Homo sapiens: one gene and its partners. The protein of the gene in region 4 interacts with the protein of the main gene of each other region in a pairwise test. Each region holds a gene or a part of one and is shown on either strand. Other genes may lie near its edges. The genes, in order: NFIL3, FLYWCH1, SHQ1 and GMCL1.

Evidence for each region.
Region 1: the proteins of GMCL1 (region 4) and NFIL3 interact in binary tests that used the Homo sapiens proteins (3 or more experiments, as listed by UniProt).
Region 2: the proteins of GMCL1 (region 4) and FLYWCH1 interact in binary tests that used the Homo sapiens proteins (3 or more experiments, as listed by UniProt).
Region 3: the proteins of GMCL1 (region 4) and SHQ1 interact in binary tests that used the Homo sapiens proteins (3 or more experiments, as listed by UniProt).

What each region holds. Positions count from the first base shown.
Region 1 is NC_000009.12:91,420,654-91,428,408, reverse strand, and holds the start of NFIL3 (nuclear factor interleukin-3-regulated protein), read left to right. Parts: upstream 1-4,576; 5' UTR 4,577-4,769; intron 4,770-5,980; exon of another isoform or gene 5,981-6,409; intron 6,410-6,704; exon of another isoform or gene 6,705-6,787; intron 6,788-7,755.
Region 2 is NC_000016.10:2,928,890-2,936,132, reverse strand, and holds part of FLYWCH1 (FLYWCH-type zinc finger-containing protein 1), read right to left. Parts: exon of another isoform or gene 7,216-7,243; intron 6,521-7,215; 5' UTR 6,448-6,520; coding exon 6,123-6,447; intron 5,724-6,122; coding exon 5,253-5,723; intron 3,004-5,252; coding exon 2,551-3,003; intron 2,418-2,550; coding exon 2,154-2,417; intron 2,045-2,153; exon of another isoform or gene 1,519-2,044; coding exon of another isoform or gene 1,466-1,518; exon of another isoform or gene 1-1,465. UniProt on the Homo sapiens protein: Transcription cofactor. Negatively regulates transcription activation by catenin beta-1 CTNNB1, perhaps acting by competing with TCF4 for CTNNB1 binding. May play a role in DNA-damage response signaling.
Region 3 is NC_000003.12:72,845,444-72,852,553, forward strand, and holds the start of SHQ1 (protein SHQ1 homolog), read right to left. Parts: upstream 3,003-7,110; 5' UTR 2,898-3,002; coding exon 2,755-2,897; intron 1-2,754. UniProt on the Homo sapiens protein: Required for the quantitative accumulation of H/ACA ribonucleoproteins (RNPs), including telomerase, probably through the stabilization of DKC1, from the time of its synthesis until its association with NOP10, NHP2, and NAF1 at the nascent H/ACA RNA.
Region 4 is NC_000002.12:69,867,465-69,874,707, reverse strand, and holds part of GMCL1 (germ cell-less protein-like 1), read right to left. Parts: intron 7,010-7,243; exon of another isoform or gene 6,907-7,009; intron 4,990-6,906; coding exon 4,844-4,989; intron 2,964-4,843; coding exon 2,876-2,963; intron 1-2,875. UniProt on the Homo sapiens protein: Possible function in spermatogenesis. Enhances the degradation of MDM2 and increases the amount of p53 probably by modulating the nucleocytoplasmic transport.

The DNA of each region.
Region 1 (7,755 bases), on a different chromosome or scaffold from region 4:
TGAAATCTTAAAAACTATAACGTCTAGGTTGTGGCTGGGATAGGTAGGTGGCAAGAGCAAAGAGAAAAGTGGATGTTTGGGGGAATGAAGGAATCCCAGGAAGTAATGATCTGAATGACTGGAGAAAGGCCAAAGGAAAAAACTAAGAATAATAGAGTAAATCAAGATAACTAAATTTAAAAAGAAAAAAGGTCAACAAAGGTAGAAAAACTACAAGAAAAGGCAAAGCGGAAGAGGAAGACAGAGGTGAAAGATTAAAAATGGCATGAATAGCAGAAATAAAAGTGCATGAGTGGTGGAAAGAAATATCATTCCAGGAAGTTTCTGCCTCAACAGTCAATGACTCATTGCATCAAAGCCAAAATCCCAGCAAAAAGCACACACTGATGGGCGTGGGGAGGAGAACCTCACTAAGGCTACCATGCTAGCTCACATCTTAAAGCCTCCACTTGAAAACAAAACAGGTCTGGTGCTGTGACTCACACCTGTAATTCCAGCACTTTGGGAGGCCAAGGTGGGAGGATTGCTTGAGCCCAGGAGTTTGAGACCAGCCTGGGCAACATAGAGAGACACTGACTCTAACAAAAAAAAAATTAAAAAATTAGCCAGGCATGGTAGTGTGCACCTGTAATCCCAGCTACTTGGAAGGCTGAGGTTGGAGGTTTGCTTGAGCCTGGGGGGGTCAAGGCTGCAGTGAGCCGTGATCACTCCACTGCCCTCCAGTGTGGGCAAGAGAGCAAGACCCTGTCTCAAAAACAAAAACAACAACAACAACAACAACAACAACAAAAACGGTATGCTATGGATTCCCAGAAACTGAACTTCTGTTCCTGGAGTTTAATAAAAAGACACAAGGTGGTCCATAAACATACTACAGTGGAAAGAAAATGGTCCTGGCACACAGGAGCCCTGATGCAGGCTGCCGGCCACCAGACCAGACAGGAGGTCACCAAAGGGCTTTTAGTTATCGAAGTTTTTTCTACAAAGAAATCCATAAGTCCAATGCACAAAACAGATAGGGTAGAGCTGCCCAATTTGGTTGCCAGGTAGGCAGCCTGCTTTTTAGCCACTGAGTCCCCCGTCTCCACCCCCTGTTCCCAGGACATCTCTGTAGAACTCAGAGGACTCAGACTGTCCAGCCTCTGGGTAGGTAAGTCCTGCAGTCTTTTATTTTTTAATGAATTGCTTGCCTAAACTGAAAATCAGGATATTTTACCAAAAAAAAGAAAGTCAACTTTCTTTTGAATAATTGGAGCTGTGGGCTGTGCAGTCTTTTATTTTTTAATGAATTGCTTGCCTAACCTGAAAATCAGGATATTTTACCAAAAAAAAAAAAGTCAACGTTCTTTTGAGTAATTGGAGCTGTGGGCTCCTGGAAACAGCAATTGATGAGAGAGCTGAAAAACAGTCTTCTTCAGTGGGTCACTTTCTTTTTGCCACAGTCCACGTGTGGCTAACGTCCTGAATTCTCATTATCCATCTGACTTTACAGTTACTCCGGCCTAGTGAGGTCCACTGTAAAATCCCTGGGATATATATATGGCCTCTTGGGGATGTTCCAGCTCAAGACATTCTGCAGCTGTAGAAAAATTATTACTATATTAAATTAAGTTGTTACTAAATTACAAATTCCTATTAATTCCCATTTTAGTAAGGAGAAGTCACTGTTTTAGTCATTCTGTTCTCAAGCTATAGCTCTTATATTTGCTTAGTCAGAAACCATGTTGGCAGTATAATAAAATGAATTAGAATGTGGTTGATTGTCTTCTGCTGGTAGTTCTCATCCCTGTCCAGGCACCTCCTCCCTTGCCCCTGCCCTCAATCCACCCCTAGCACTGAGAGGTTGCTGAGAGCAAGAACCCCTTCCTCCTCCTCCTGAGAACCTTACAGCCCAGCTCCACCATCAGGCACATGCTGATGTCTTCCTAGAAGCCTCCCCACCCTGGTTAATTTGTTTCAAATATCTTAGGTTTTTATGCTCCATTTACTCGAGTTAATCTGCAAATACTTACCTACTCTGTGAATGTTCTAGGATATAATATTAGATACATCATCACTTCGGCCCTGGGGACAGATCCTTCATCCTGTTGTTTAGTGGTGTCCTAATCACCAGGAGGAGCTAAAGAGTTGTTTTCTAAGCTGGTATCTCAGATACCTTTCACACTTCCTCTGATTTCCAAGTTAGATGGTAACAATGAATGATGCACAGATATAATACATACACAATCTAAAATACTCCAAGTAAATATAGGAGCATTCGATTTCAAAATTCAGCATAAAGAATAAGTTTCCAGGTTGAGAGAACTCCTCCAGCATCACTGCCTGGGGTGGCTCCAGGCACGTTCTTTACCTGTCTTGAAGGTCGAGTTGTCTTTAAAGAAAGACATTTACTACAACGGCTTTGAAATTCCATGAAATTATTCAAAATGCAGAACAAGGTCAGAACACGTGAAGGGGAGGGTAGATTATGCAGGACAGCCCTGGATTTCTAGACAATAGCTGCATTTCTGACCCCAAAAAGGCAACTAATATGGATATGATTTTGATTTCATCTAAGAGAGGTTCTCAAAGCTACAAATAAGCATTGTAAGGTTTGGGCAAAAAGGAAACTATCAGTAAATTTGAGAAAAGTGGCCAGGCACAGTGGCATGCGCCTGTAATTCCACTACCAGGGAGGCTGTGGCCGGAGGATCCTTTGAGCCCAGGAGTTCCAGGCCAACCTGGACAACATAGTAAGACCACATCTTGAATTATTATATATGTATGAGAAAAGTGGAAATTATAAACTAAAATCAGGATTTGTTCTCATGAAGGTAGTCAAGTTTGGAAAATGTGTAGTGGAGGGGATGTGGTTCTTGCATTAGTCAGCACCGGGAAGATGGTGTCGGGGAACACGCTAAGCCCATATTGTACGTCTGAGTTTTCAGAGCCTTGTCAGCAGAGCTGTACTACCAGATAAATCACGAACAAGAGTGCGTTCAAAACCACAACGCTGCCCTGGAAGGCTTTCCAAAAACTCAACTGATAGGTGATAAAAATTTTTTAAATATGACTTGCGTTATTATGATATTAACTGTGCAAGAAGGGGAAAGGTAGAAAAGACAATCTTGGCGAGTAGATAGATCTGCTGCTCATGGCAGACACTAGGGATGGTACCTGGGTGTTCACTCTGCTCTTCTCTTTACTTTGGTTTTTGCTTTTTAAAAACGAAAGGAGCAAAAAGAAGTGGAAAGTCGTGGAGGCACTCGGCCCAGCCCCCACGTAGTTCAAGGAGACCAGGAGGGAGCTGGCTGGTGGAGGTCCTGCCCACCTGCCACACTCCGTATTTGGGCAAGCCTGTGAGTCACTGTCGGGAACATGGCTCCCTTCGCCAAGGCCAGCACTGACCACTATCCGTGTATCGGTAAACGCAGGGAGTGTGCCACGTGCCTTGACAGTCTAGCGCGACGACTTAAGAAGTCGCGGCTAGGTGCTCTTTTTTCCATTTTTTTACGTCTCTTCCGTAGCCCGGGAATTTGGGAGAGAAGACTACCGTATCCAGTTAGACGCAGAAATAACACTAAGCAGCTATCAGCTCAAAATCACAGGAAGAGATCCCGCGCGGTCGTCTCAAGCCCCAGCACCAAACGACAGTGGGCGTCCCAGCGGGGGCACCCGAGCGCGGACCTTCACATCCTCCGAGGAACGCCGCACCCGCGTGGCGGGGGTGGGTAGATGGACCTCAGCGAGCCTCGTTTCCCAGTCGTGTTACGCAACAACTTTGCAGCCGTCATCTTCGCCCTAATTGTGCAGGGGGCGGTGTTTGTGCGTGGAGCTTTCCCTCCCGGCTCCGGGCCGTCGCGGCTCTCGGGAGAGGCGCCGGGACATTTTAATCGCTGCCTCCGCCGCGCAGCCCTGCGCAGCTGCCCGGCCGCGCCAACCCCTTCCCCGCCGCAGCGCGCCCCGAGTGTTGGCAGCTTGCCAGCCGCCACCCCCCGCCTTCCCTCCTGCCCACCCCAAGGTAGAGGGCTCCTCTCGGGAGTGTGCGGGGAAGGGGAGGCCGAGGTCCGGGCCACGCCCGGGTAGCCGCAACCCGCAGTGCTCAGTCGGCAACAGGTAGCCCAGCAGGCTGCGGCTCTCAGGAAGACAAAAAGCGCCTCTGCGAGCAAGTGAGGGTCGCGGGGAGCGCAGAGCCACCGCGGCGACCGGGAGGGTGAAGGGAGCCAAGAGCGGACGGGGCGGTGGGACGGGGGGCTCCCGGGCTCCTCCGCAGGCTCGCTCCGGTCGTGTCGGCCGCGTGGGCCGTTGCGCAACACTCGTTGCGCCGGGAATGGGGCGCCAGCCCTCGCGGGCGCTCGGACGGCGGTGGCCCTGGCCGGGGAGGGACGCGAGCTGGTAGTGGCGCCGCCGCGGAGGGGGAGCTGAGGGCGGGGAGGCGGGGCGGGGCCGCGGAGTGCCCGCCCCGGCCCGCCCCTGCCGGCCGCGGCCATTGGCGGCGGGCCGGGGGCGGGTGCGGGCGCGGCGATTGGGGCCGCGGCCGCCAGTCACGCGGGGCTGGCGGGCGGCGACGTAGCGCGGCGCTCGGAACTGACCTACTAACACACATCTCTCCGCGCGGCCACGGCGCCCGCGGACCCGGCGCGCCCGCCCGCCTCCCGCGCCGCGCCCTCGCCGCCGCCCGCCTCCCGCCGCGGCCCCGGAGGCCCGGCCCGGCCCGAGCCCCGAGCGCCGGCGGCCCGACTCCCGGCCGCCCCTTTCTTTCTCCTCGCCGGCCCGAGAGCAGGAACACGGTAAGCGCTCCGCCCACCGCCGGCCGGGGGCCCGGCGACCGCTCCCAGGGCGCGCTGCGGGCGGGCGGGCGGGCGCGGGGTGCGGGCCGCGCTGTGTGCGGGGTCGGGCTGTAAGCTGGGCTCGCCAGCGGCGGCGAGTGCGCGCGGGGCATTCATTACATAAACTTTTGCTGCCTTGTCAGGATGGGACTCGCCACCTTAAGGTGGCTGCTTTGATTGCAGCGCCTTCGCGCCGGCACGTAGTCCTGGCTGGTTTGCGCTCTCCCCCCGCTGCTGTTGCATAATGTCTCCTGATTTCAGGAAAATTGATGTTTTGGTAAAGAAGAGCGCCAGGCAGGCTGAGCCCTCTCCGAGCGGGAAGATGCTCTTTCCTCTCTAGTGTCTTTCTTTCTCGTTCCTTCTCTGGGGCTGGCGGCGTAGGGGGGAGAGGAATGGGGGGTTGAGGAATGGGGAATAGTCTTAATTTGCTTGGTGAGAAAAAGGGTTGGTAGCGTGAACGGTGACGGCATTCGGAGAATGCCTGCGCGGCGTTTGTTTGTGTCAGGGGCTGTGTCTGCACAGACGTTTTCCACCCTGTTTGTCGTCAGCGTGTTTTACAAGCCCTCGGGAAGGTTGTGGGATTTGTCCTTTCATACATTGCATAATCTGCCCACGGTGAAATGTTGGCAAGAATTGCGGGCTGATGTGGGAATATGCGCGTATGTGTGCAATGATTTGGTAATTGAGGCGCAGCGTTGGATATTAGATCGTTATTTACGTCTATATTACGTCCCAAATAAACAGGTTTTAAAACGATACTACAAAACCTAAAAGCAAGAATTGCTCGCATTGAATTCTGATCTTGGGTACTACTGGGGTTCGCCCTTTCAATGTTCTCAGCTGTTATTTTTAAATCTGGGACGAACCATTGTGACGTTTACCTCCCCACCTTCCTAATTTTAATGCATTCCATTCGATCAGCCCTTTTTCTCACCTTATTGTCATTGCTTTTTCAGACACGACAAGACAAATCACATAATAGTTTCCTGGAAATGTTGCATTATGTAACTGCCGAATTTGCTGGCAGTGAGCATAGAGAGAGGGAGCTAATTACGTGATTTTATAATCTTGCTACAAAGAAAGTAGGACAGTCTCAGCCTTTAAGAATGTCACTATAACAGTTTTTTTTTTTTCCTTAAGGATATTTTAAACAGGAAAGTAGACAACCGGGTAAGCATGGAGTTTGCTCATGCTGCCGAATGTGTGTCTTTTGCCCTAAATGAAACGCACGTTCTTCTAAATTTAGCCCTATCACATTTTAACAATTGTGGCCTCGCAGTGCTATTTCTGGTGTTTTCTCCAGGGCTGTGTGCAAATACAAGTTCAAGGCCATTTGCTGTAGTTTTAACTCCACGCCTTCGGAGACCTTTGATAAGATTGTATTTTTAGGAAGGCATTTCGCAGCGCCCGGTGATTTGCTGGATGCTGGCTCCCATTTATGTTTTTAAAGGACACTTTAGGAAACTGCTGTTCTCTGAGAACAGCAGGGAATGGCCAAGTGTCATCTTCTGTTCTTGGCTTTTGTAAATAACAACAGTAAGTGAGGTCAGAAGTATTTATTTACCCCCAGACCAGATATGACCTATGGGAAACAGATATAGGTTAGTAGATTGTTTTTTTGTCTGGATACCCTGGTTTTACTTATGTGAAGATGTGTGAATATGTAATTTACCCAAATATTAAATTTCTTCCTGGACTGTTACATAGTGATTATGTGTGAATATATGTATATGATGGGATGTATATATAACGTAACATTTAAATTAAGTGCAGGGTTTTTTTTTGTGGGAGGTGGGGGGTGGACGTCTCTGGAACAGAGTATATTACCCCAAATAATTGCAGTCGCTTTCCAAGAAGCTAGTTGCTCTAGGCCCCCAGCTTCAGACCCCGACCTACTTTGCGAGCTCGGGTGGGAGTCCCAGGCCTGTAGGGGCCGCGTGGCGCCACCTTCCGATCGCGATCTCCAATGGCGAGTCCGTGCGGCCCCCAGTGCGCCGCTCCCTCCTGCGGGCCGGTGGGGTCTGCGAGAATCCGGGGCTGGGGGCGGGTCTGGTAGTGGCGGGCGGGGACCTCGGGTCGGGACCGAGAAGCGCCTCCGAACGGCAGTTATACTGGGGCTGCTCAGTGGCCTGAGCTCCTCCCTGCCCCCTCCCCACATTCCTTTGTTCTGGCGCGGGGGGTCCTCGCGGCGCCGAGGCCCCGCTGCGCCGCCCACCCGGAGGGAGGAGGGTCTCTGGGAGGCGCCGCGTGGGGGCGCGGCCCGTGGAGCCCGGGCGCTAGGGACCGGCCGGGGCCGGCGTACGGGTGCGCTCTGGGTTCGCCCGGGCCGCGGGAGCCAGGGAGCCAGGGAGCCAGGGACCCCGGCTCCCGCACGGGGCAGACAGGGGCAGCGCGGGCGACCCGGAGCGCCTGCGTCTCCGCGGCCCTCCTTCCAACAGGGCAAATCCAGGGGCCTGACTCCGCGCCTGTTCTGCGGTGAGGTTCAGAAACCTGCAGACACCTTTGTTCCAAGAGTCTTCATTGTATTTCGGAACCAAGCGCGTCTCCATTCTTGAAGTGAAAAAGACCTTAAGAAAAACCTCCAAACGTCCACCGGCCACAGAAATTGGGGGTGGAGGCGCTCCAGTATTGATAGTGATTAAAAGGAAGGCCTCAGCTTGACTTTGGCCAGTTGAGTTGAGCCGATTTTTTTTAACCTTTAATTTATGTGGTCAAAGGCTAGAGGAGAGAGAACACTGATCTCCAGAGTTCAAAATAAAATCTAAACGCCCACATAGACGCTGCTGTCCTACTGTAAAACTACAGTACTTTCATCCTCGCATAAAGACTTCCAAGATTGTACCCATGCAGTAATTCATGGAGACATCACAGATGTTCTCCTGAAGCATATCAACGCAATCTGCTCTTTGTTGAAAACTGACCGAAAACTTGCTTTCTTTGGCATCAT
Region 2 (7,243 bases), on a different chromosome or scaffold from region 4:
AAGACCAGCCTGGCCAACATGGTGAAACCCCATCTCTACTAAAAAAATACAAAAAATTAGCTGGGCGTGGTGGTGTGCACCTGTAATCCCAGCTACTCAGAAGGCTGAGACAGGAAAATCACTTGAACCTGGGAGACAGAGGTTGCAGTGAGCCAAGACCACGCCACTACACTCCAGCCTGGGCGACAAGAGTGAAACTGTCTCAAAAAAAAAAAAAAGACGCCCTCATCTGGGAGGATCAACATCTGATTAACAGGAGCAACAGAAAGGGATGATGATGGGGAAGTTAACAAAGAGCACGAGAGGATGACCCCACGATGAAGGACACAAGCCCAAAGCCTAAAAAGGCCCCCAGCACAGCCAGGTACAGCTGGGAGGGAGCAAAGACCCTAAAACCTCAAGCAAAGCTGACGGCACACAGAGGATCAGTCACGCAAAAGCGGCAGGGACGTTCAAGGGCAGGCTCTGCACCTGTGACACCACGGAGGCCAGGCTGCCCCTCCGGCGGAGGGAAGCGACAGACATTTCAGACATGAAAGGCCTCAACGTGCTACCTCCCGGGACCGGCCCAGGAAACGACGGGAGGCAGGACTTCTCCAAACCACAAAATTATAAAGAAAACCAAGAAAGAGAAAGGCAGGCCCAGAAGCAGGGAGTCAGCACAGTGAACCCCGAGGGACAGCTGGGCCCGGCCTCTGCCCCCAGGCCAGGCTGCACTGGGAGGTTCCAGCAACCTGCGGTTGTGGATGATCGGATCCAGGTGGGGTCGACCTGGACACACAAAAGCAGGCAAACAAACGCAGCAGCTGCCACCCCACAGAGAAGACAGAGCTGTGTTAGGAAGATGGGACCACAGAGCACCCCCCAGTCAGCCGCGAGCAGGTTTCTAGGCTAAAGTGAAACCAAACGTGGCCGGGTATGGTGGCTCACGCCTGTAATCCCAGCACTTTGGGAGGCCGAGGCAGGCAGATCACCTGAGGTTGGGAGTTTGAGACCAGCCTGGCCAACATGGTAAAACTCTGTCTCTGCTAAATATACAAAAATAGCTGGGCGAGGTGGCAGGCGCCTGTAATCCCAGCTACTCAGGAGGCTGAGGCAGGAGAATTGCTTGAACCCGGGAGGCGGAGGTTGCAGTGAGCCAAGATCACGCCACTGCACACCAGCCTGGGTGATAAAGCAAGACTCCGTCTCAAAGAAAAAAAAAAAAAAAAAAGCCTGTGCAAGAAGTGCACTGAGTAGCTGACAAGGAAATGGAAAAACCAATTAATAGTAGTGGAGGCACATTTTAGGAAATAGGGCAGCCAAGACCCTAAGAAACAATTGCTTAGTTACTTGTGGGGTCAGGAGCGGGGGTGAGGACGAGGCGGGGACCTCGCAGCACTGTCTCTCTGGAGATGGAACAAAAAGAGAAAGACAATCACAGCTCTCAAGTCCGAGAGAACTTTAGGGCCATGAGGCAACTCACATGACCCAAAAGCTGCAGGATCCGGAAGAGCCACTGGAAAGAGAGGCCAGCGCCTTGGGGCGTGAAGGAAGAGCAGGTGAGTGGAGGAGGCCACGATGAAATGGCTCCTCAGCCAGACGCTATGGGGACATTTACGCAACTGTGGTTGTGAAGTCAAAACACCAGGCACTGCGGGGGGCCGACCGTGTGGATAAAGATGGAGACAGCCGGGACCCTCCTCGGGCCAGCGTTTCAGGACATTATGGGTGTCTATGGAACAGCGGGCCGAGAGGAGAAACCGGCTGCATGTAAGTAAATATCACCTCCTCAATCCTTAACCACTCAGACGTTAAGACAGCCTTCCACCATAGCAACGAGACTGACCATGTGCAGTCAACACCCTCTATTACTACTATGAACTCTTAAGACAAACGGAGGAAGAGGAGGGCAGGGAGGTCTATCCCTGCTGCTGCTACTGTGGGGCAGGTCAGGCTGGAAGGGGGAGGCTGGGCTGAGCAGGAAGGTGAGACCCATTGAAAGCGGCATCAGGGGGGCCAAGGAGTAGGAGGCCAGGGCCATAGTTCCTTCTAGGATGTTCAAAGAAGGGAAGAGGACGTTTGCCAGGGGGAGCCGCAGCATGGAGAGGGAAAGGCAGTGTGGGGCTCCTGCCTGCTTCCTGGGGCCCAGCTCCCAGCCCACCCCCAGGTACCTGGGCTCCCCCGCTGCGCCGTGTTGGGGCGTTTCTCCCGCTGCCTCAGGGCCTCCAGGCCTCCCAGGTCGGGCGGGTGGCAGTGACCACGCATGACAGTCACCCGTCGGCCCTGGGTGATGGCGCGGCTGCGGCAGCCCATGCGGGCCTGGTCCCGGCAGGTCCAATACACCTTCTCCCCAGCCGCCTTCTCCCGCCGGTAGAGGAAGGACTCGTACACCAGGAAGCTGCCCCCCAGGGGCGTCTTCAGGAACTCAGGGCCTCCTGGGGAGGTTCAAGAGGCAGTCAGGGGAGGGGACAGGGGCTGGGTAGGCCTGATCGCACCCCCTTCCCTCCCTGGACCTCTGGAGGCAAGAGTCAAGGCAGGGCCGGTGAGCCCCAAAGGAAGGCAGCTCACCCGGGTCTGCGTCCATGTCCTGGTGCTCGTCTGGGGCCTCGGGCTGGGTTGGCAGCTCCTGGTCTTCGACCTTTGCTCGCTTTCTGGGCCGAGGCCTGGTGAGAGTCAGGGGACCCGGACCCCTGCGGTAGAGCAAACTATCCACGCCTCGGAGCAGCGTGTCCACTTGGCTCCCAGGGCCGTCCTGCCCAGCCTGCAGCGTCTCCACGGCCTTCTCCTGCTGCCGCCGGGCTTCCAGGCCCTCCATATCGGGCTGGTGGCAGTGCCCACGCATCACAGTCACCCGCTGTCCCTGGGTGATGGCCCGGCTCCGGCAGCCGTGCAGCGCGTGGTCCCGGCAGGTCCAATACACCTTGTCCCCGACAGCCTTCTCCCGCTTGTAGAGGAACGACTCGTGTACCAGGAAGCTGCCCCCGTAGCACGTCCTCAGGAACTCGAGGGGCCGGGCCTGTCCTAGAGGAGAGACCCAAGTGGTCACATCACCAGGGGTGGAGAGGAGCCCAGGAGGGACAGCCCCTGCAGACTGTGGGGGCTGACACGAGCCTTTCTCCTTTAAGGCTGAAATTTACCCTGGCTTCCTGAGCCAGATATGTCAGAGGCCCCAAACCCATTCCCACTGAACCCCTACCACCAAGCGACCCGGAGGAGAGTCTCATTCCTCTCCTAGCGGTCAGTGAGGCCACCCCAGCTCACCCCTACCACCGAGTGACCCAGAGGAGAGTCTCATTCCTCTCCTAGCTGTCAGTGAGGTCACCCCAGCTCAGGCCTGCTCAATGTTGCATCAAGGTTACACCGGGAGGGGCCAACCTGGACTCAGACTCAGTGGTCTCTGTTTTCTGTCACTCCTGCTCATATTTTTTTTAGGTTTTGTTTAACAAATCTACCCATTTTTGAATAAAACACACAAGGTATAATACATTCAAATGGTTCGAAAAGATCACAGTGAAAAATAAGTCTCCCTGTTCCCTGCACCTCCCTTCCCACCCCAGGTGCCCAGGGCAGGGGCCACCTCAGATCCTTAAGGCTGTGTCAGGAGCCACGTGGCCTCCTCGAACCCAAGCCCATGTCCCAGTTACTGGTAATAAAACAGCCAGAACTCCCATCTGCCACTTGCCAAGCCCCAAATGTGCAATTTACACAACAATCCAGGTTATCACAGCCACCTTAGGATAAAGCTCCTGAAACTCCAGAAATTAAGCCAATTTTCTGAGGCTACAGAGCTACCATCAGGGAGGGCTGAAAGTTGAACCTAGGACCCAAAACCCAAGACTCTCCCACCAGCCATCTTTTTTTTTTTTTTTTTTTTTTTTTTGAGACAGGGTCCTGCCACGTCGCCCAGGCTGGAGTACAATGGCTCGATCTTGGCTCACTGCAACCTCCGCCTCCAAGCAATTCTGCCTTAGCCTCCCGAGTAACTGGGATTGCAGGCGCCTCCACGCCCAGCTAATTTTTTTTTTTTTTTTTTGAGACAGAGTCTTGCTCTTTTGCCCAGGCTGGAGTGCGGTGGCACGATCTTGGCCCACGGCAAGCTCCGCCTCCCGGGTTCACGCCATTCTCCTGCCTCAGCCTCCCGAGTAGCTGGGACTACAGGCGCCCGCTACCACGCCTGGCTAATCTTTTTTTGTATTTTTTTAGTAGAGACAGGGTTTCACTGTGTTAGCCAGGATGGTCTCAATCTCCTGACCTCGTGATCCGCCCACCTCGACCTCCCAAAGTGCTGGGATTACAGGCGTGAGCCAAAGCGCCCAGCCTCGCCAGGCTAGTTTTTTGTATCTTTAGTAGAGACAGGGTTTCACTATGTTGGCCAGGCTGGTCTTGAACTCCTGACCTCATGATCCGCCCACCTCAGCCTCCGAAAGTGCTGAGATTACAGGCATGAATCACTGCAGCAGGCCTAGGTGTCTTTCCTGAACTTAATGGACACTAGAATTGCATGGGAACCAGATAAAATTCTGATTTTTTTTTTTGAGACAGGGTCCAGGTCTCTTGTCCAGGCTGGAGGGCAGTGGCGTGATCCCGGCTCACTGCAGCCTCAATCTCCCTAGCTTAAGTGATCCTCCCACCTCAGTCTCCCAAGTGGCTGAGACCACAGGCACACACCACAACAGCTGGCTGATTTTTTGTAGATATGGGGTCTCACTATATTGGCCAGGCTGGTCTTGAACTCCTCGGCTCAAGTGATCCTCCTGCCCCAGCCTCCCAAAGTGCTAGGATTATAGGCATGAACACTGTGCCCAGCCCACATTTATGTATTTTTTTTTTTTTTTTTTTTTTTTTACTGAGATGGAGTCTCGCTCCAGTCACCAGGCTGGAATACAGTGGAGCGATCTGGGCTTACTGCAACCTCTGCCTCCTGGGTTCAAGCGATTCTCCTGCCTCAGTCTCCTGAGTAGCTGGGATTACAGGTGCGCACCAGCATGCCCGGCTAAGTGTTGTATTTTTAGTAGAGACAGGGTTTCACCAAGTTGATCAGGCTGATCTCGAACTCCTGACCTCATGATCCGTCCGCCTTGGCCTCCCAAAGTGCTGGGATTATAGGCGTGAGCCACTGTGCCCGGCCACATTTATATTTTTAAAAGTCATTTTAGCTTTGAGTACATTTTAAAAGACCCTGTGGGACCCCACATTTCTATTTGGGCTGAGGAAGGGCCCTCGGGTCCCCTGCCCCGAGTGGACGCAGCAGGGGAGTGGATTGTACTCACCCAGCCCCAGGATCGAGCGCTTCTTGGGCGGCAGGCTCAGCAGTGACAGGGCTCGGGGTGCCTCCTCCTCCTCCAGGGCCGGCTTGCTCAGCACCAGCCCAGGAGTGGGCTCGGGCTCCTCAGGGCACTGCCACGGGCCCACCCCCTCCAGGGGCTCCTCCACTCGGCCTCCAGGGCCCTCAGGACCCTGGGGCTCTCCCAAGCCCTCTGGCAGGGCCAGGCTGGGCAGTTTCTCCCTCTGGCGCCGGGCCTCCAGGCCTTGCTCATCGGGCGCGTGGCAGTGGCCCCGCATCACTGTGGCCCGCAGGCCTCGGGTGATGGCCCGGCCCCGGCAGCCCAGCTCAGCATGTTGGCGGCACTTCCAGTACACCTTGTCCCCCACTGCCTTCTCCTGCTTGTACAGGAAGGACTCCAGCACCAGGAGGCGGCCCCCGAATGGTGTCCTCAGGAACTCCAGGGACTGAGGGGCTGCTGGGGGAACGGGAAGGCTAGGTTAGCTAAGCTAGAGCAAAGCTCAGGGTCGCAGGCACAGAGAGCCAGGGAGGGCGTGGGGATCCTGAGTATGGCAGGTGCCTTCTCCTCCTGCTCCCAAGCAAGAAGCCCAGACTCTCAGGGCTGGTTTTTATTTTGGGGGTGGTAGTGGATGTTTTTAGGGAGCTGAAGGAATTCTGCACGTCACTGCAACTCCCAGGAGCTCCTGGTACCTGACTGTGATCATCCCACCAGCCTCGGACACGCTCAGGATCAGAGACCAAGAGGCTGAGCTTGGAGCAAGGACAAGACACTATGCTTGAAGCAGGGTGTACAGGGCCTGCTGGGAGCGCTGGAACCCACGGGGTGGCTGGGCAGGGGCGGGAAGCCACACCTCACCTGCATCCAGCTTGCTGCACTTCTGTTCAGGCATCTCTAGGGCTGGCTGGACCACCCCTCCCTGCTCCTCAACTGGCAGGATCTGCAAGGTGCTGGCGAGGGTGGCGGGGCCAGCCATCTCCAGGGACAGGACGCAGTGCACTTCCTGGGGCTTGGATCCCACCCCATCCTCATCTTGGTCGGAGGCTGTGAGCAGCACCAGTTTGGAGAACTCCCTGGGCTTCCTGGGGGCTGCCGGGATGACGTCCGTGCCTGGCTTGGGGGATGGCTCCTGGCCGGCCTTCACACTCTCGCCCTCCTGCTCGCTGGGCTCGGGCAGGGGCATCCCGGGACCCAGGGCCTGTCCCTCAGGCCACGCTCAGCACCCAGCAAGGAACCTGGAGTGCAGTGGTTCCGTCCTAAGGAAGGAAGCAAAATCCCGTCAGTGGTGGAAGCCCTTGGGGGACTCTAGACGTGGATCTGGGAGGGAGGTGGGGCAGATGGGGCTGCCTCACTGCTCGCTGGGGCCAAGACTGGCCGGGGGCCTGATGGAACTAGGCTTCTGCTCTGCCAGTTCCTCTCCTGGCAGCCTTAGGTACGTCAGCCCCATCCAACCCCACTTTCCCCATCTGGAAAATGTGCACAATAAACACCCTCCACAAGGGGCCATCAGAGTGACTAATGGACTAAGAGCTCAGCCACATGCTGAGCACGGACGAAGGGTTTCCACCCGCGTTTCCAGTCCCCCCTCCAGTCCCTACATTATGACGGCAGAACGTTCTTATTGACCCAGTTATAGACGAGGATAGTGAGGCACAGACACCTGTGATACACTTGAGGCTGAAGAGGCGGGAAGCTGAGACCCGTTTCTGCTCAGATGCCCAGGGACTTGTCAGGACCTTTTTGGAAACCATGTGCTTCACCAGGACGCCAGGCACCTGTCTCAGGCATGTGGGCCTGGTACGCAGAGCCCTTTCCAGAGGACGGCACCACATCACGGCCTGGGAGGCAGAAAGCCCTTTCTGGGCTCAGGCAGACCCAGTCCCTATCCTAGCCTGGAGGCCCCAGGCCACCCCCACTTCAGGAGATACCAGGGCCCCACAGTGGCAGCCACCTTGTGCCGGAGCTGTTGCTGTGGCTGC
Region 3 (7,110 bases), on a different chromosome or scaffold from region 4:
CACTGCACTCCAGCCTGGGCAACAGAGTGAGATTCTGTGTCCAAAAAAAAAAAAAGAAAAAAGAAATGAAGTGATTTCCCTGCTTCCAGTTTTACCCTAGTTCAATCAGTCTTCCACTGAGGCTCCAAAATAATTTTTCTAAAACAGGAATCTAATTGTCACTTTTCTATTTTAAAAAGTGTCTATGGCTGCCTCATGTTGCCTAGATAATTTAAACTTATCAGAAGGGCATATCAGGCCCACTCCATATCATTCCAAACTTGAAATTTGAGCTTCCTTTCTTCCCATGGCCCTCCCCCTTGTTTCCTACTAAATATGATTAAAAACAAAAACAGCTGACAGTCCCAAAAGGCCCAGGACCTTTAATCCCAAGGTTTCCTCAAGCTTCAATACATTTTCAGAATGAAAATCCCTCTAAGCCAGAATAAGGGGTCAGTTTATGGATGAGTTTGTTATAATGGTTACAAACGCTAACTTTAGTGTCAGAATCTGAATTAACTCCTAGATCTGCCATTTACCAGATGTGTAACAACCTTCTTTGTACAAGTTAATTATTCTTCAAGAATCATAAATCCCTCTTCTGTAAAGGGGGGAAATAACAGTAACTATCCAAGCGTTACTATGAGCATGAAATGATAATGCAAAGAGCTTAGTGGCCGGCACAACAGGTGAGCATTCAGAAAATGTGAGCTATTATTACCAGCTCCCTTCCCCTAAACTCTATAAGCCTAGAGTTAAATTCTTACTGCAGAGAAAATTATATTTGCTTACATGGGGCCTCCGCAGCTACAGTCTCCATTCTTCAAGGAGAGGGACCAGGTTTTATTCATCCTTGGTATAGCAAACTGTATGTTCTTTTTTTTTTTTTTTTTAGACAGTCTCGCTCTGTTACTCAGGCTGGAGTGCGATAGCGCAATCTTGGCTCACTGCAACCTTCGCCCCCCAGGTTCAAGCGATTCTCTCACCTCAAGCTTCCCAAGTAGCTAGGACTACAAGCGCGTGCCATCAAGCCCAGATAATTTTTTTGTATTTTTAGTACAGATGGGGTTTAACCATGTTGGTCAGGCCGGTCTCAAACTCCTGACCTCAAGTGATCTGCCCACCTCGGCATCCCAAAGTGCTGGGATTACAGGAGTGAGCCACCACATCTGGGGGCAAACTGTATTATCAAAGAATGCCCATCTCACAGCACTCTTCCCAACCATGAAGGTCTATGTTCCCTCCCCTTAAAATTCAGCAGGCTCTGGGACTGTTTTGATGAATACAATAAAGCAGAAGTGACACAGGAATTAGACCTTTAACATATGAATTTGGGGACAAGAGTTGGGGGGGTGCCCACAAATAATCCATCCACGGCAACGGGTAAATAATAAAGCCTCGTTGTAACACTGTCCTAATAACAAATGAGATAATCCGTATAAAGCACTAACCTGGAGTAAAAATTCAATAAATATTTGCTACCACCATAATCTTCTTCCTATTCTTCACATCTTGGCTTAAATATCGCCTCCCCAGAAAGGCTTTTCCTGACCACTTTATAAAACATGGGCCCTTTTTCATTCTCTATTAGTGCACTTCTTTCTCCTCATAGCACTCACCACAATTAAGTACACTGTTTATTGTTTTCCTCTCCCCAGTGAAAAGTACATGAGGGCAGGACTTTGTCTTGTTCAGCACAATAATACCAACACTGAAACTCAATAAATAAATTAAAGAAATAAGTGAATTAAAAAACTGGAAAGTGCAATAATTCAAATACGGACGTTATATGGTCTAAGGGAAATCTGAGCAAAACTGGTTCAGCAACAGTGAAAAAACCACCTTGACTGGTGGAGAAGGTTTGTACCACAAAAGTACTTGGGTGGGAAAAGTAGGATGCAGCTACACTTCAGAAAGATTAGGAGGATGGATAAAGAGAAGGACAAGAGATTGGCAATACTTTAGGATGAATATGTAGCAGCGGGTTCTGTGGAATGGGGTTAATAGCAGTGCTTATCCCTAAGGATCACCGTCAAAGTTAAATGAGATACACCATCATAAAGCACTTAACGGAACTGCTTGTCCACCACACTACGAGTTATCAGTGTTAGCTGCTACCAAGGTTACGATTCTGCAAGGAGAATAATTTAAACAGATCAAGTGCTGACAGACCCTCACGGAGACTTGGGGGAAACAACCACACTTCAGGGACAAAACCAAACAGAAGAGCAGCAGACAGCAGGGAAGCAGGAGAACTAGGCTAATTTGGTGTCAAGAGGTCCAAAAAAGGTAAGAATTTCGGTAAGTAGGGAGCGGACAGACAAGAGATAGATCAACAGAAGGCGGCCTGGGCAAAGTTAAAAGGACCGACGGGTTGGGAAGTCACGGAGATGTCAGCGCGCGCCGTTCCCAGGAAGGGAGAGACTGGGAGAGCAAACGCGGAGTGAAAGGAAAGAACAGAACAAGTCAGAACGGGACGAGAACTAGGGCGACAGGGCAGAAACGGGAAAGTGACACGGTCCAAACGTCACTTTTTCAAGTGATTCCGCAATCCTTTGATATGGGATTTAAGAAAGCTCAAGAAGGAAAAGGGCTTCCGCAGCATCTAAAACGCACCCCTGGAAGAGGGCAGTTCCCTGGCACCAAGAGAAGCTGCGGAAACGTCGGGAAAAGGCATTCGCGCAATCGAGCACTGCTCTCTCGACCTTGCATTCTCCCTCTAAAGCAGCTATCTAACGAATGCGCCTTTCCTGCGGCCAGGCACCCCGAACTCGCCTGAGAAAGTATGGCTTGGCGTAGAACTTGAAGTCAGACCCCTCGAAGTAGACGTCGAACTCGGAGACCCGGGCGTAGGGCACGCGGATGGCGATAGTCAGGAAGTCCGGATCCTGGCTGAGGTCGAACGCCGGGGTCAGCATCGCCGCACCGGACGCAAGGGCCGGCGCCGCTCGCTCTCACTGCCGCCGCGTTCCCGCCACGCAAACTCTCCAACTCCCCACGCGCAGGAACTCTCGGTGTGAGGGACGGAGCTTCCGGCTCGAGGCGGAAGTGCTCGCGCGTAAGGCAGGAAGTCTCTCCCCACGCCAATCTCCATGGAGACGGGACGCCGTTCGAGAAGAGGCGGAACTTTCAAAACCCCCGGGCGGAGAAAGGGCGTGGCGAGTGGTGCCTGGGAGCCGGCGTTGAACCGGCGGGATGACTAGCAACCGAGCCTTTTTCGAGGTTCTTAGAGATGATTTTAACAGCACTGGCTTGACAGGTAAACAGACGTGCGTTTGAATCCCTTCCTGGCCACAACTTCTCAGCTGTAAGACCTTGGGAAAGTTACAAAACCTCTCTATATCTTCTGTAAAACGCGGATAATGCGAGAACCTAGCCCCATAGAAATGCTGTGAGGGTAGCATGAAATTGTGCATGTAGAACTCTAATAACGAACTTGGCAAGTTGTCAACGCTTGATGTGCTGAAGTAGTCACCGCAGTAGCCACAGCAGCACCGTTACAGTGGTTTCCCTTAGTTCTCACCTGCCTTGTGAACAATTCCTCTTACACTTTCCCTTTCCTCCCTCTCTCTTTCCACTTCTCTTTTTCTGCAGCTTTCTCTCTCATTCTTAACGGCTTATTTGAAGAGTTTTCTCTTTAACAGAGCGTCCGTCCCGCTAATCTCATCTAATCTACGCTGCAAACTCTAAAGAAAACGGCTCAGAGAGGTTAATCAGTACGTTTTATAACCATGCATTTTACAGTAATTAGAACTCAGAACGTTTGACTCTTAAACCGTGTCGGTGACTGCATTCACAAATTAAGGTCCCTCTGTATTCCCCTTCTTTCCTTTTTCTCACTCTTGTCCTTACACTTGTCTGAGGACATCTTTTCTGTCTTTTTTTCTACTTGTCTTCCTTGTATTTTCTCCCTTTGGAGTGTGCCCCTTACACTCTCTCAGTGCCTCTCCCGCTGGTTTCCCTCTTCCCCCACATATTCCCTTGGCCTTTCCACACATGTTGTTTCCTGTTATTCCACCACTAATTAGAATAATCCAGTTGTGGTATTTATTCCGTGGTTTTAAGTATCAGTGGAAAAGGGATGAAAAGTACTCTCCTAGGACAGTGGAGATAACCAGAAAACTTCAAAAGTCTTTTCAATCTCCAGCTGTTTTATGATTCTAAGGAGACATTCTTGAAACTTCATTAGGACTCAGAAAAAAAATTAATAGTAACAGGGGCTAACATTAACTGAATATTTACTATGTGCCAGCACTGCAGCAAACCCTTTGTAATGATCTCATTCTCCCTCCTGACCGCTCTATGAAGTAGGCATTATATATTCCCTTGGCTTGCACAGGATCTCACAGCTAGTAAGTGGTGCAATGGGAATTGAAACCCAGGTGAGTCTGATTCCTAGGCCCAGGCTCTACACTATTACAGAGTTGACTCCCTCTGTTATTACCACCTACTTTGTTTCACATTCTAAAGCCAAGCCTGCCTGCTTTAGACCATACTGAGCCTTACAAGTAATAGGCACTCAATATTGACAATGAATTGATGCCAACTTTGATTTAATAAAGCTCTCAAAAGGTCCCTTGAGATAGGCCTGTGACTAAACTATTCCAAATTAGCTTCTTTACAAAGAATCTTGGCCGGGAGCGGTGGCTCACACCTGTAATCCCACCACTTTGGGAGGCCGAGGGGGTGGATCACCTGAGGTCAGGAGTTCGAGACTAGCCTGGCCAAGATGGTGAAACTCCGTCTCTACTAAAAATACAAAAATTAGCCAGGCATGGTGGTGTGTGCCTATAATCCCAGCTACTCAGGAGGCTGAGGCAGGAGAATCCCTTGAACCCAGGAGGCGGAAGTTGCAGTAAGCCGAGATTGTGCCATTTCACTCCAGCCTGGGTGACAAGAGTGAAACTCCATCTCAAAAAAAAAAAAAAGAAATAATCTTTACATCTGCCATGGGACCTCATTCCTGTAGGTCACAAGCATTAATATTTTTAAATTATTAATGCCAGAGAATCAACTGAAACAAGCTATGCTATCCATGAGGAAATTCTAATTGAAAGCACTTTGCAAACTAGAGCTGTGCATTTCCTGGGTACTTTATTATGTGTCTGGCAACACACACACACACAGGACTGCAACACAGGAAAACAGACAACATGGTTCAGTGCTGCCGTCATTATAAGAAATATATACTGCATCTGCTAAATCACAAAATACGGATAGTTTCAAGTATATAACAAGGTTTTGTTGTTTTGGGTTTCTGTTGGTTTTTGTTTTCTTGCAGGCAATAGTTCTCTTATTTTTGCATTTCTATTAGTGGTAAATATAAGTTATAGATTCATTCTCACTTAAGAACATAAAGTTCCTTTTGGCTGCCATGCAACTTTGGTTCTTTCTCCTGCTTCCTCAAAGGCAGTCCTAGCTATCACTTCAGACCCTTTTCTATTTCTACATCCATTTCTATGGACCCTGTTGCTTTGTGTTTAGACCCACTTTATATGGGCACATTCTCACACTATGAAAGTAATTCTGCAACATGCTTTTTTTCCTACTTTGGTTCATTTTTGAGACATAGCTATATTGATTCATAGATCAAATTGAGTTTCTATTTCTGAATACAGACATTGCTTGAGAATAAAGACATTATTTTAATGTTTTAAATTAGCTCTGGTTTAGAGGGGAAAACAGGAATGCAATTTTTCATCATTTTTGAGCATTCAAATGTTGCAGTGTTTTTTATCTTTTCATTTTCTGAAAGCTTACTTTTGAATGGCCTTCCACTGTTTTAAAAATAGTTTTTCCTTCTGGCCTATAGAGAACATGAAATAAAATAATAAGATAAAGTTTTTTCCATGACCAACTTATGTAGGACAAGTGTGTAACCTATCATCTTTCATTATATTAAATTGGCCCCTCCTCTGGTCTAACAACCCTGATTGTGATCCATAAGCTTCCAAATTAAATGTTAAATTAAAAATGGTTTTTATAAACAATTCCAATGTCAGCTTTATTACCAAGTTCTATTGTTAGAAGTCTTTTAATGGTGAAATACTCCTTGTTTCCAGAAGGTGGCATGCATATAGGTGATTAAAACAATGTTATCTCAAAGAATGGAGCTTTAACCTATGTTGAAAAATAGCTTCCTGAATAAGTTGTTTATAGCGCTAGTTCATTCTCTGAGCCATTTTGGGGAGGTGGTGGAATCTTACACAGTATTTGCAAACTACGTCTTAACCACTGTTATTATTTTGGCATACATCTTTTCAGACTCCTATTCATAAAAGTATGGGAAGTATTTTCAACAAAAGAATGTCATAATCTATATTTGCTTTCTTCACTTAATATAGGATTACAGGCTGGGCACGGTCGCCCATGCCTGTAATCCCAGCACTTTGGGAGGCCTAGGCGGGTGGATCACTTGAGGTCAAGAATTTGAGACTGCTGTGGCCAACATGGGAAAACTTTGTTTCTACTAAAAATACAAAAAAATTAGCCAGGTGTGGTGGCACCACCTGTAATCCCAGCTACTCGGAAGGCTGTGAGGCAAAAGAATCCTTTGAACCTGGGAGGTGGAGGTTGCAGTGAGCTGAGATTGCACCATTGCACTCCAGCCTGGGTGACAGAGCAAGACTCCATATCTCTCTCTCTCTCTCTCTCTCTCTCTCTCTCTCTCTCTCTCTCTCTCTCTATATATATATATATATATATATATATATATATATATATAATATATAAAATACATATGTGGCATTACAATATTTCCATTTGACTACATTTTTGTCAAGAATAAGTTTATCCACAATTGTACTCTTTGTTTTTTTGTTGTTTTTTTTTTCAGAGACAGGGTCTTGTGCTGTTTCCCAGGTTGGAGTGCAGTGGCAGGATCATAGCTCACTGCAGCCTCAACCTCCTAGGCTCAAGCAATCCTCCCACCTCAGCCTCCCAAATAGCTAGGACTACAGGTATGTTTCACCACACGCAGCTAACTTTTTTTTTTTTTTTAGTAGAGACGGGGTCTTGCTATGTTGTGAAGGCTGGTCTCAAACTCCTGGCCTCAAGCACTCTTCCCACTTCAGCCTCCCAAAGCACTGGAATTATAAGAGTGAGCCACCACTCCTGGCCTAGTGTTAGAAC
Region 4 (7,243 bases):
ATATAAAAGCTGTTAAAAATTAGCAAGAAAAAAATGAAATTTTAATAAAAAATTAAACAGGAACAATATAAGCTGTCAGTTTACATGAGATGATACGTTCAATAAGCATAAAAAAACCCAACAATACAGTAACCAAAGAAATGAAAATTGAAAATTAAGGGCCAGGCGCGGTGGCTCACACCTGTAATCCCAGCACTTTGGGAGGCCAAGGCAGGTGGATTACTTGAGGCCAGAAGTTCAAGACCAGCCTGGCTAACATGGTGAAATCCTGTCTCTACTAAAAATTAGTGCACTCCAGCCTGGGCGACAGAGCAAGACTCTGTCTCAAAACAAACAAACAAAAAGAAATGAAAATTAAAACAAATATTTGTTTTCACATTTACTACGCTGGGATAGAGATGAAAAAGAATAAGATACAATATTGGGTATACTCTCCTGTACTGCTGCCAGGGGGAAGTATAAATTGGACAGTAGCTTTGGAGGGCAATTTGGCCATTAGAAAATTGTATGCACCATGCAACAAGAATTCTACTTCTTGGAATTTATGCTTTAAAAATATCATAAAAATGGACAAAGATATATGTATATTTCCTATAGTAATGAAAAAAAATGAGAAACAACTTTATCCAATAAAGAGGAATTATCTAAGTTACGGTATAGCCAAAACAACTAATATTATGCCGTTCATAAAAATGATGCTGTGAATATATATTTATTGACCAAAAAAAGCTATGTACAACAAAGTGAAAAAAAAAAAAAAAGGTTACAATTACTACCTCACTGTCTGATGCACCTAGGCTCACCTGGCCTTGGGCTCTGAAAGAGGACCAAGCCTTTCTTCTACTGGGCCCAGGCCAGGTGACCCCATTTTGCCTCTCCCCCAGGCCTGACCACTATGCGACCAACAAGTTCTCCCAGGCCACTGACTTGGCCATGAAGAAGACAGAGGACAACAATGCACTTGTGTTCATTGTGGATGTCGAGGTCAAAAAGCATAAGATCAAACAGGCTGTGGAGGAGCTCTATGACACCAATGTGGCCAAGATCAACACCGTGATCAGGGCTGATGGAGAGAAGAAAGCCCATGTTCAGCTGGCTCCTGAGCATGCTGCTTTTAGAGGCTGCCAAAAAATTGGGATCATCTAAGTTGAATCCAGCTGGCAAATTCTAAATATATATGTTTTTCACCATTAAAAAAAAAAGCAGGTTACAAAATAGCTAACCTACTGTGATCCAATTTTGCAAAAATGATACAGGTGAAGGAAAAACTCAGCAATGTATCTGAGTGGTACATGTATGATTGTTGTTTCAGCTGACTCATATTTTCTATTTTTTCGACAACATCTATAACCTATATAAAACACGGAGACAACTCCCAAAGTAAATCTCCCAAACTCCATCCACAGCCCTCATGCCCTGGCTCTAGTTATACTGAACTCTTCCAACCATCTTTCAGTTCCTTGAATATGACCCATGTATTCCCTTGCTTCCGGAAATCTTACTCACCATTTGAGGCTTGGTTCAGGTATGCATTCACTTTAACACTTTTCCAGGAGAGGATGTTTTCCCTGAGCTGTCTTTCTTTCTCCTCCTCCTCCAATAACCACCCCCAACCACGGCAGCTGCTCAGTTACAGGTCAGAGTCTTCTCCCTCAAGGTTGCACACTCTGAGCTAATTCTATCATGCTACTTACACTAGGCTATATTAACACAAGCCTGTCTTTATTTCTTCTACTTCTAGCTGAGAACCAAGCACATGGTGGGGACACAAATGTTTGCTGAAGGAACATGGGAATACAACTATTATCTTGGCCTGGTGCTTTTTTAGGTCTCTGGCTGGGTTTGAGCCATGACAGTATTTTTCATGAAGTTTCAGGTAGAAGATAAAGATAGTCATTGTCTGTTCAGCTGCAGAGGTTACAAGAAGGACCAACAGAGAGTTCTGATGGAGGCAGATTTGGACTTTCTCATTATATACCTGCCTTGAAATGGACATTCCTACATATTACCTTTCATGTAAGATGGGGGTCAGTTAGAGTTTCAACAATGGGTGGATGACCCCCTCTGTAAGAATGCTGTTAAAAGAAGTTCTCATATAGGGCATGTGAGGTTACAATGATCACTTCCGGGGTTACTTGCAATGCTAAGGATGTTCTATGATAGTCTCTTCAGTCTGAGGAAAACTACTAACTTCTCATAATTTATGTAAACTATAACAGGCTTTGAATCCTTTAATAAAACATTATGCCCTTTGGAATGATGATTACTTTTAATAGAAATAAAGTTCCTCAATATTTTAACAGCTTTCAGTTTTACTTTTAAAAATGGTCTACTTTCTCATCATGACACTTTGAAACTTCTCCATGTGTGTGATGTATGAATAAATAAATGGCTTTGGAGATAATCTGGGGAACATTGCAGAGTTTGCCATCTTACGAACCTAATGGGCTAGAGAATAATGCTCTTATGATATTCGGAGCTATGGAGACATACAGGATTGTCTTTAAGATGCCTGCTGTGAATGTATAAATAAATGCACTATGTACACAATGGATAAAGCACTTAAGATTCCTAAAATTTTAGGAATGAATTTTAGTGCTGCTGATATTCAGGATAAACAATTATTTCCTTATAATCAGTGTTTCCCTGCCCCTCAAACAGTGTTTTCTTTTTTTCTCCTAATTATGCTTCCATTGGGATGGGGTCAATTATGCATAAGTGAATGTGGTACTTTCATCTTTACCTTCAAAAGACTTTTAAACCAACTTTTAGGTCAAAATGCCATCACTTTAATGTTAATTCTACTTAAGAATTTTCAAAAGAGGATTCAAAAGACAAATATTATGATGACATACCAGAAGATAATCGAACATACCTGATCCTTTTCAAGTGTAAGTATTTGATAGCCAGTTGTTCTACTACATATTAGTTTTCCACTACTATCAAAAGAAGCCAAACGTAATCTAGGATTAAAAAAAAAATAAAAAATAAACACAAGATTTTTAAACCACAGATTAAACAAGCTCTTCCTTACTTTCATATTTACTTTTTCCTCTGTTTTTTATTTGATAAAAGACTTTTAGGAAGTCTTTTCAAACTGTAATCTGACTGCATTCAGTGACAAGCCTGTGCTATTATACATATCTGGCCAAGAGAAATCATTTATAAATGTTTTTATTGTGGTAAAATATACGTAACATTTATCATTTTAACCATTTTAAAGTATATAGTTCTGTGGCATTAAATATATTTCCACATTGTTCTGCACCCATCTCTAGAACATTTTAATTTTCCCTCGCTGAAGCTCCTTACCCATTAAACACTAACTCCCCACTTTCCCTTCCCTCAGGCCCTGGCAACCACCAGTGTATCCTCTGTACCTATGAATTTGTCTACTCTAGGTACTTCGTATGAGTGGAATCTTACAATATTTGTGCTTTGTGAGTGGCTTATTTCACTTGGCATGTCTTCCAGGTTCATCCATGTTTAGCATGTATGAGAATTTGCTTCCTTTTCAAGGCTAAATAATGTTCTATTTTATGTATATACCACATTTTGTTTCTCTAGCATCTGTCAGTGAACATGTGGGTTGCTTCCACCTTTTGGCTATTGTGAATAATGCTGTTATGAACATAAGTATACAAAAATATCTGTTTAAGTCCCTATTTTCAATTCTTCTGGTCTATAGAAGAGAAACTGCTGGATCATATGGTAATTCTGTTTAATTTTTTTGAGGAAGTGTCATACCATGCTCCATAGTGGCTGTGCCATTTTACATGGCCACGAGCAGTACACAAGGGTTCTAAATACTCCACATCCTTGCCAACACCTGTTACTTTTGTTGTTTTTTTTCTATTCTGTTTTTACTAATAGCTATCCTAATAGGTGTGAAGTGATAGCTCATTGTGATTTTGGTTTGTATGTCCCTAATTAGTAATGTTGAACATCTTTTCATGTGTTTATTAGCCATTTATATATCTTCTTTGGAGAAATGTTTATGGAAGTCTTTGGCCCATTTTTGAGCTGAGTTGAGTTTTCTTTTTAAATTATAGAGTTGTAGGAGTTTTCTATATATTCTGGGTATTAATGTCTTATCAAATGTAGCGTTACAAATATCTGCTCTCATTCCATGGGTTGCCTTTTCACTGTCTTGACACTGTCCTCTGATACACAAGTTTGTGATTTTGATGAAGTCCAATTTTATCTACTGCTTCTTTTGTTGCCTGTGCTTGGGTGTCTTATGGAAGAAATCACTGCCAAATCAATTGTTATGAAGCTTTTCCCCTATGTTTTCTTCCAAGAGTTTCATAGTTGCAGTTCTTATGCTTAGATCTTTGATCCATTTTAAGTTAATTTTTGTATTTGGTGTAAGGTAAGTATAAATATATGACTTTTAAATCATGTTCATTAAGCTACTGTCCAATTTGTCAGCTTCTGGTATCCTCTCAGAAAAAGATTGCCAGCAACTACTGGGCAAAATTTAACATATTAAATCCTTTAAAAAGTTAAGGATAATATGTGTTTTCCTGGAAACATACCTTGCTACATATTTCAACAGTCTGGATCTTTTATTTGCTAGGAATAGCAACAAGGCAACGACTTCAAGGCTGATATTCCCTACTGGTATATATTCCAGCCTATTCATTCTCCCTGACATACTAGATCCTATGATTCTGATTACTAACAATAGATTTCACAGGAATGGAGCCTCGTCATTTCCTACCACTTCCACATATACTGTAGCTTACCAAAGTTCTACTAATGTTGGTGTAAATTATCAAGGTTTTATTTCTTATATTTTCTCTGGAGTGAGGAGGAGTGGGGTGGGGAAATCTCATCCTACCTAAATGCTATGCTCCTTCGAGGCTGTAAACTGACAGATCCGCTACATGGCTGATTCAGTGTATTGCGTTTGAAAATGATGTATCGATTGGTGTAAGTTACAAGTAGGTCGAAGCCGAAGTTAAAACCTGTCCAACGCCAGCAGTACTAAAAAATACAAGAGAGAAGACTTATTTCAGTTTATCATATTAGCAAGTAGAAAATAAAAAATTCAAAATGTCTTTTTGTCTCTAACTCATTCCAAGTATTTCCCTCATGGGTGGTCGACTTTTTGTCAGTGACTTTTTCTTAAGGCTTACCACCCAAAACTATTTATCTAAGCTAGAAAAGCTGCCCTTAATGATCATAATTCTCTAAGCTACTTTCCTCTTCATGATCAGTTTCCTTATCTCTCCATACTGCAATTCTACCATAAATAATAAGGCTTTTTTTTTTTTTTTTTTTTTTTGAGACAGAGTCTCATTCTGTCACTCAGGCTGGAGTGCAGTGGCATGATCTTGGCTCACTGCAACCTCCACCTCCCGGGTTCAAGCGATTCTCCTGCCTCAGCCTCCCAAGTAGCTGGGACTACAGGTCCCTGCCACCACGCCCGGCTAATTTTTTTTTTTTTTTTTTTGAGACAGAGGTTTGCTCTAGTTGCCCAGGCTGGAGTGCAATGGCATGATCTTGGCTCACCACAACCTCCACCTCCCGGGTTCAAGCGATTCTCCTGCCTCAGCCTCCTGAGTAGCTGGGATTACAGGCATGCGCCAAGCCTGGCTAATTTTGTATTTTTAGTAGAGACGGGGTTTTTCCATGTTGGTCAGGCTGGTCTCGAACTCCCGACCTCAGGTGATCCGCCCGCCTCGGCCTCCCAAAGTGCTGGGACTACAAAGTGTAAGCCACTGTGCCCGGCCTTTTTTTTTTGTATTTTGAGTAGAGACGGGGTTTCACTATGTTGGCCAGGCTGGTCTTGAACTGCTGACCTTGTGATCCACACGCCTCGGCCTCCCAAAGCGCTGGGATTACAGGCGTGAGCCACTGCACCCAGCAATAATAAGGCTTTTCACTGCAACTCTAAGTGGGTATATAGCTTAGAGCACTAAGAGTTTCTAGAGCACTAAGGTAATTAAGAGCCCATTAAAATCCACCTTGCTTTAAAAATACTCTTAAGGGCTGGGTGTGGTGGCTCACGCCTGTAATCCCAGCACTTTGGGAGGCCGAGGCGGGTGGATCACCTGAGGTCTGAGGTTCAAAAACAGCCTGGCCAACATGGCGAAACCCCATCTCTACTAAAAATACAAAAAAGAATAAAAAAAAATAAAAATAAAAATAAAAATAAAATACTCTAACTCAAGTAACACACAACTGGGTTATTTAAATATCATCATGGGGTTCACGAGTTTGTTTATTCTATCAGCTAATAGTTAATGTGAGAGTATCAGATAAGGTAGTGTGATACAGAGAAGTAGTTAGGGCTTCAAGTGTTTGGCTGACACCCTGAATTGCAATTCAGTATTTAACTGATATTTATTGAGCACATATTATATGCCAGGCACTCCTCTAAGCAATGGAATCATAGCAGTAAATAACATACAGTTTCTGCCCTAGTAGAGGTGATAACTGTAAGGGCAAAGCTTTTTTTTTTTTAAAGAGACAGGGTCTCGTTATATTGCCCAGGCTGAACTCTAACTCCTGGGTTCAAGCAATTTTTCCACCTAAGCCTCCCAAGTAGCTGGAATTGCAGGTGCATACCACTGTGCCTGGCTGGAGCAAAGCTTTTGAATAGGTGAGCATGGATAGAGTCCAGTACAAAGAGAGGGAATGGACTAAGATAGAAGTAGGCAGTTCATTTTTCTAATAAGATGAAATGCATAGCGCATAGCTACAGGTGCAGGTAGACTGGCAGAACTACTGGTAAGATGATGTACAGATTCTCTTTTCATTGCAGTAGGCAGCAAGGCCATCAGATAAGAATAAGGGTGGGAGCATTGCCCTTTTAAGGAGAGAAGGTATGAGTTACCTCAGCTAATGGGAGGATCAATTCACTAGGAAAATGCAGACAGATCATGATGCAGCACTAACCTACTTCAAGTTCATGGTTACCACATTCAAGTGGAACCCAATGGGGTACGGTGTTTGTCTTTAATCACATTCATCTGTCTGGATGCAGGCATGGAGTGCAACCCTTGACAAGAGTTGGGGTTTAGCCAGGTGAGTTTAACATGTCAATGAGGAAAAAGAAAAGTTAAAAGAGTATAAGCAAGGGACCAATTTTACGATGGAACATAAAATATAAGTCAAGCAAAATAAGAAGTAGAAATGTGGTCAGAAAGGTGATAGGGAAAGGTTGTAAAAACAATGTATTGTATATCCAGAATGGAGTTAAAAAATTGTTGGAGTCCAGGTGCTAGAGAGAATG